Linked DNA regions of Homo sapiens. The protein of the gene in region 2 purifies or fractionates together with the protein of the main gene of each other region. This does not show direct contact. Each region holds a gene or a part of one and is shown on either strand. Other genes may lie near its edges. The genes, in order: DCAF6 and CTSO.

Region 1 (3,830 bases), on a different chromosome or scaffold from region 2:
GGTTGTGAAGCTCTGTTGTAACAATCATACCATTTGGTTCCTAGAGTCCAAGGATACATTGCACACATGGATGAAATGCCCACCTAAAAGGATGTATGTCTTAAAGTTCCCTCCATGCTGCCATTTGCAAAGCCCAGTCAATATTAGTTTAGCTGGGGTAGAGAAGTGGTCCTAAAATTAAATATTATACAAGTGTATACTTAATTTGATCTGTACTTTATATGAAGAACTATATAGTGGACCTCATCAGTTTTTGTTCCAAATTTAATTTTTAAAAGGAAACTTTAAAAGGCTTTATAGCTAAGTCATTTCTGACAAATTTACTGAAAATATCAGAACAGTTCCTTGCAATACAGAGTAATGATTTTTAAAAAAATATTTACATTCTTATAATTTGGTTAAATAAATGACCCAGGTTTTCACTTTTGGGCTGAGATCAAGCATGAGAAGGAAATGTCTTAGAAAATGAAGACCTTAACAACTAACATAGATATTTTTAAATGGAATGCTCTTCTCATTAACTACAGCAAGTCTATGTAAATGTAACTGGGAGTCTATAGCAGAGCAGCAGACTTACTCCTAAAGAGCCATATAGTAAATATTTTGGCTTTGTTGGCCAGGAGACAAAATGGAGACCATTATGGTAGGTACTTATATGACCATTTAAAATATTAACATTTAAAAATGTAAAAACTATTCTTAGCCTAAGGTTCATTTCAAAAATCGGCATTTGGCGGAGATCTAGCCCAAGAGCCATAGCTTGCAAATACCTGCTCTATAGTAATCAGTGTTATAGAGAGAAATCAAACTATAGTCTGTGGTAAAATGCCTCTACTGGCAAAAATCCAGACTTTGAAACAATGAAATAATATGAATCTCCACATATTTGGGTTCCCTTTAACTTTGCGTAAGGCAAGAACATGGAACAGTAAATGGGAAATAAATTGAAAAAAGACAGAAAGAAATGTTTGTTCTCTAATCATGGTGTTTAAAAAAATAAAATTAGTCCTAATGTCAAAAATAAGTCTGACTTAGGAAAAAAGCAAAACAAAGCAAAAAAATAGTATGTGTATCTTTTAGTGATTTTATATACTGTATTTATTTCATTTTGTTTTATTTTTTTGAGACAGGGTCTTGCCCTGTTGCCCAGGCTGGAGTGCAGTGGTATGATCATAGCTCACTGCAACCTCATACTCCTGGGCTCAAGCGATCTTCCTCCCTCAGTCTCCCAAGTAGCTGGGATTACAGGTGCATGTTGCTGCACTCTGCTAATTTGTTGTTGTTGTTGTTGTTGTTTTTTTTTTTTTTTTTTTTTAGAAGAGACAGTCTCACTATGTTGACCAGGCTGGTCTTGAACTCCTGGCCTCAAGCCTCAGCCTCCCAAAGTGCTGGGGGACTATAGGCGTGAGCCACCGCGCCTGGCCATATACTGGGTTAAGAAACGTAAATATATGCCCTTGGAATGAAAAGAGTGTGGTTGAGATCTCTGTTTAGATAATCTGCATATAATTTTTTTTTTTTTTTTTTTTTTTTTTGGAGACGGAGTCTCGCTCCCTCACCCAGGCTGGAGTGCAGTGGGGCAATCTTGGCTCACTGCAAGCTCTGCCTCCCAGGTTCACGCCATTCTCCTGCCTCAGCCTCCCAAGTAGCTGGGACTACAGGCGCCTGCCACCACGCCCAGCTAATTTTTTGTATTTTTAGTAGATACGGGGTTTCACCGTGTTAGCCAGGATGATCTCGATCTCCTGACCTCGTGATCCGCCTGCCTCAGCCTCCCAAAGTGCTGGGATTACCGGCATGAGCCACCGCACCCAGGCTGTATAATTTTTTTTTTTTTTTACAATGCCAAATCTGTTGTAAGTGATTTGACGGCCTGATTGGTAGCTCTTACTGTTTCTAAACTCAAGAGAAAACCTAAATTACTCTCTGAAAAAAAAAAACAAGCATCTAAGAAAGCTTCCTGAATAAGTCCTCACATAGTCTTGAATAGTTTTTAATTATAGCCTCAGTTAGGATGATCTAACAATTTTTTCCCTAAAGAGTGATTTATCCTATATTGCCCTTTAATAACTTTTAAAGTGTTATTTTCATAGAAATTTGGTTCCATATACCTACTCTGGACCATGGAGCATAGCCCTCACTTTTAAAGCCAAAATTCCTTGTACTGTAAATTTGGCAGCATTTATTCAGTCATCATTGTAACCATGATTTCCTTATTTCTCATTATTGCAGTTTACTCTTTATTAAAGAAAATTGCAGAGAGAAAAGATGTACTCAAAGAGAAAGAACTGGACTCCTAGGGAGTTAAAAGCCCTGTTATTCTTTGCTCATTTGTTATATAGTCTTGTGGTTAGGCCAAGTGAATTAGCTTAGGGCTTAATTATTTATTTTCCAAAGAGCTCCTCAGCTTTGAGGAGCATGTACGTGTTCCAGAGGATGGTATTCATTATAAGCCAGTGCAGTTTCCCATACTGTGACAGGATTGGGTTCTGATTTATTTAAAAGATAAAAGGGATTAAGTGCAATGTCTTCCTTCTATTCTAGCTTCAATGAGTGTTTCTGTTTCCTTAATTTCTTCATATACATTTAGTTGACTGACATATTCCTTGCTTAATGCCCGAAGTCACAAAGGGAAACAAAAGTTTTTTTTTAAATTGAGATGATTGATGATAAAAAGGGTGTCCTTAATGCTTTAAATATTTGGTTCTTTGAAGTCTTTGTAAGTGATTTCAGTTATTGTGTTCCCTTCACTAGATTTAATATCAGAGGAACAACAATAGGTGATAGAATAATGAGGTAATTCAGTATGTTCCTTCATAATTTTTTTTTTATGATGGATTTGCCAGGTCTTCTTTTGCCACAGCTAACCACCTTTCCTATTAACAGTTAATACTCCCTTTGGACTTACTGAATTCTAAGTGCTAAGCATTGTAAAGCAGGTCGCTTTCCACAAACTATATTTAGCTGCATGCACTGCATGGGGATAGAATGAAAAGAAATTTCCTGTGTGCAGACTGATGTTCACTTCAAATATGTCATATGGCAAAGTAACTATAATCTGAAATGATGTACTTTAAGTATCAGTTACTCTTTTTGGATATTTTGTTGAAGAATGCAATTTATGTTTTTTAAATTTGATTGGGATAACAATTACCAACTTTTTGTTATTCGTATATGCTCCTTTTCCTTGAGCTCAATAACTAAAAATGTACTTGAATCTAAATCTGTGTATAGGTTTCTGATTTTTGCAAGAAAGTTGTTTCCTTATAAATAGTTTAGAAATAGTGTCACATATCAAGATGATATATAAGCCTCAAGCACTTCTCTATTTGGGACATATTTTTGAGTAGATCTTTAAAGTGAACCTCAATGACATCAGTCACCTACTGAAAACCTGTTTTGCTGACAAAATCAACCTTGTACTTAACTCTAGAGGCATATATCTGTTATTTACCATCAGTTTCTAAAACAGTTGAACATGAAACATATAGCAACAATCAGAAATGTAAAGTTTGTAGAGTTCCTAATGAAAAATACAGAAGTCATGAAATAAGCCAAAAAATATAATAGATGTATGGAAATTTCTGGTTATGGTTCATTGTCAGGAGGATTCTCATCTACAAGTCTCAAATTTGTTTTTGCTTCTCAAACTTGTTTTGTTTTGTGCTGTTGTTTCTAGCCTGTTTTAACATTAAGGTATATTTGAAATAACTTTTTCAAATTATTACTAGTTATCACTTTCTTTTTTTTTTTTTTTCCCCAAGATGTAGCCTTGCTCTGTTGCCCAGGCTGTAGTGCAGTGGCGCAGTCCCAGCCCACTACAACCTCTG
Region 2 (3,454 bases):
GTGCTATGCTTTCTTTACACACGAGAACACAGATTGCAACATCATGGCAAAAGCAATAAATAGCCTATCTGAAGACTGGTTTTTATTATAACTAACCGTATCTTCGAAATCTCTTGCAGCTATGAAATACTATCTGCCTTATGCCATTGCTCATAAGAGTAATATGACATCATTGTAACTTTCAGGGAATACTCACTTTCAGGAAGAATTTGAATCCCTGTATGATTACCAACCAGGCATGCCCTTAAAGATTTACATTATGAAAGCAGGTAGAGAGCAGAAATTATCTCCACTCACCCTTAGTAGCTGAGGGATGGAGAAAGGTTGTGGTGAGGGACGTAGTTATAATTGAGGCAATTATGAACCAATATTTGAATTATGTTATTTTAACACTCCTGTAAGAGATTTGAAAGCAGTCACCCCTCAGCCCAAATCCAGGATCCACCACTGCTGCAGTCGGACATAATATATGTTCAGCAGCAAGGGTTAATGATTAGCATCAGTCATTTATCTGCAAGTTCCAAAGATGTACGAGTCCCCAGTGATGCTGAAAAGTGGAGGCCTGATGGGGTTGCTAGTATTCTGGCCAATATATTTCTGTGATGTTGACTTTTTTCAATGAATAACTTATAAAAACTGTCTCATCAGGGTGATAGAACAGATCACTCATGAACTCTCATGGATTCTGCCTTATGGAATGATTGGTTAATAGTCATTGAACATAAACTTTCAAATTTTTCTGTAACTATTTAATCAGTCTCATAATCTGAAAGATTCTGCATTTAAAAAAATTGTATATATGTTGGAACAAATTATAATAAGAAATGACATGATTGCTCTAATATGTAACTTAGTTTGGGTCTAGCTTGATTCAGAAAATATGTTGATTTCTAGACCAAAAGTTTTAGAATATAGGTTTGAATATAGTTTTATAACACGGTTAAAATTCTTAACTAGCTATTTTAGTTTGGTTGGTGGTTCATTTAAAAAGTTGTGTTTCAGGCTGGGCGTGGTGGCTCACGCCTGTAATCCCAGCACTTTGGGAGGCCAAGGAGGGCAGATCACGAGGTCAGGAGATTGAGACCATCCTGGCTAACACGGTGAAACCTCGTCTCTACTAAAAATACAAAAACAAAAAATCAGCCAGGTGTGGTGGCGGGAGTCTGTAGTCCCAGCTACTCAGGAGGCTGAGGCAGGAGAAGAGTGTGAACCCGGGAGGCGGAGCTTGCAGTGAGCCGAGATCATGCCACTGCACTCCAGCCTGGGAGACAGAGCGAGACTCTATCTCAAAAAAAAAAAAGTTGTCACTCAATAAAAAAGCATGTTTGGTATTTGCCTAAGCCTCTCAATTCTAGTGGGTGTTTTGCTAGAATTTTGTAGGTGGCAAGGGGCATATTAAATCACAAACAATACTAATGCTTAGTTTTCGTATATTTTAAAACAAAGAAAAACTCTTGATAATCATTGAGCAGATATTATAATACAGAAATTAAGAAAAATTTATAGTTATGAAATGTAAATTTGGAACAAGAAGACATTTCTGCAGGAGTCCAGTCTCCTAAGCTGTGTGTTTATCTCATTTTTAAAGCAATTAACCTTGGTAAATTATTACTTTATCTTATGTTTTGAGATATATATGTAATATATATTTTTTACTAAGGTCCCTCTTCCTTTTTCAAATACTAATATGTTTAACAGTTCCTCTTGCAAAACACTTTTTTTTTTATCATTTGGTTAAAGGACAAAAATTATTACTGCTAAAGTGGTTTGAGTAGATTGTAACTCTAAAATATTCAAATAATCTCCTTAATATTTATATTGAGGTTTTAAACACAAACTCATGACTTACCACAAACATTACTTCCCATTTTGACATGGGCATAACCATCTACTCCCCAAGAACTTCCCCAGGAATTCCGCACAATCCAATATGGAGTGCTTCCTACAGTGAAACATAAATAGTAACAAATCCTGAAAACTCAAATTTGTTATGAATGTTTAAGTTTCTTTATTTTAAGTTGGATTCTTGCTAAGGATAGTAGCTCTGAGAAGAAGATTAAAAATGTAATTTAATGGTAACTTAAACTACTTTATTTTAACTAAGTAAACCTGAGCAGTACTTACGGACACTCTCCAATCAGTAGAAATATATGTTTGAATTCACTTCCCTTTATACAGGGACTGCATAAAATGAAAACAAACACTAATTTCCAAGGAATCAGAAAAAGAAAAAAGAACTTTTAGATACGTATGATAAAATAATATGCACTTACCTTTTCCCAACAATTATTCTAAATGTTCCCGATACAGTTTTATATCAACAAAAATTATCATCATTTTAACAGGATATCCACTCAAAAATTGACAGGTGGAATCTGACAAGACATTTACATTGGGAACAGGCCCCCCAAATCCGGCCATAAACTGGTCCCAAAACTGGCCATAAGCAAAATCTCTGCAGCACTGTGACATGTTCGTGATGGCCATGACGCCCACGCTGGAAGGTTGTGGGTTTACCGGAATTAGGGCAAGGAACACCTGGCCGAACCCTGGGCAGAAAACTGCTTAAAGGCGTTCTTAAGCCACAAACAATAACATCAGCAATCTTGTGCCTTAAGGACATGCTCCTGCTGCAGACAACTAGTCAGACCTATCCCTTTATTTCGGCCCATCCCTTTATTTCCCATAAGGAATACTTTTAGTCAATCTATAATCTATAGAAACAATGCTTATCCCTGGCTTGCTGTCAATAAATATGTGGGTAAAGCTCTGTTCGGGGCTCTCAGCTCTGAAGGCTGTGAGACCCCTGATTTCCCACTCCACACTCTATATTTCTGTGTGTGTGTCTTTAATTCCTCTAGCGCCGCTGGGTTAGGGTCTCCACAACTGAGCTGGTCTCGGCACATTTACTCCTATAAGATTGTTGAGAAGTTGTGAAGGTCTTATGAGGACTTAATCATAGCAGAACCAAATTTCAATGTTCTACAGTATGGTGATCATTTTGCACTCAGTGTCCATGCTGGAAAGCAGTCAACTGAGTCTTATCAGCACTTACCTGTTTTATCAAACCCAGTTATGAGAACTGCATGATTTGCTTCTCCACTAGAGCAGTGATGCTGTATAATGCCTCCCAGATAATCTTGCCAGCTCACTGCATCTACTATGACTACCAAAGGGCCAAAGGTAAGAAGTGCTTTTGCCATTTCATCTTCTTGGTCACTACCAAAAGAGGAAATATTTGGTTAGAAAATTTAGTTTTTAAGGTAAAAATAACAATGATCTATATAATCTGTGTATGATTCTGAGTAGGTTTGGTTGCAGTTACAAAGGACCTAAACAATGGAAGCTAAGTCTGAGAGACTGGTAGTCTATGGCTGGGATAGGGTTTCAGGATATCAGGAACCCAAGCTCTTTCTCTATCATTGTCCTGCTATTCAAAGGTTTCCATTTTCAG

Evidence for each region.
Region 1: the proteins of CTSO (region 2) and DCAF6 purify together in Homo sapiens (affinity purification with mass spectrometry; one large-scale study listed by BioGRID and IntAct). This does not show direct contact.

Annotation. Positions count from the first base shown.
Region 1 is NC_000001.11:168,048,138-168,051,967, forward strand, and holds part of DCAF6 (DDB1- and CUL4-associated factor 6), read left to right. Parts: intron 1-2,754; coding exon 2,755-2,796; intron 2,797-3,830. UniProt on the Homo sapiens protein: Ligand-dependent coactivator of nuclear receptors. Enhance transcriptional activity of the nuclear receptors NR3C1 and AR. May function as a substrate receptor for CUL4-DDB1 E3 ubiquitin-protein ligase complex.
Region 2 is NC_000004.12:155,926,487-155,929,940, forward strand, and holds part of CTSO (cathepsin O preproprotein), read right to left. Parts: intron 3,220-3,454; coding exon 3,056-3,219; intron 1,943-3,055; coding exon 1,850-1,942; intron 1-1,849. UniProt on the Homo sapiens protein: Proteolytic enzyme possibly involved in normal cellular protein degradation and turnover.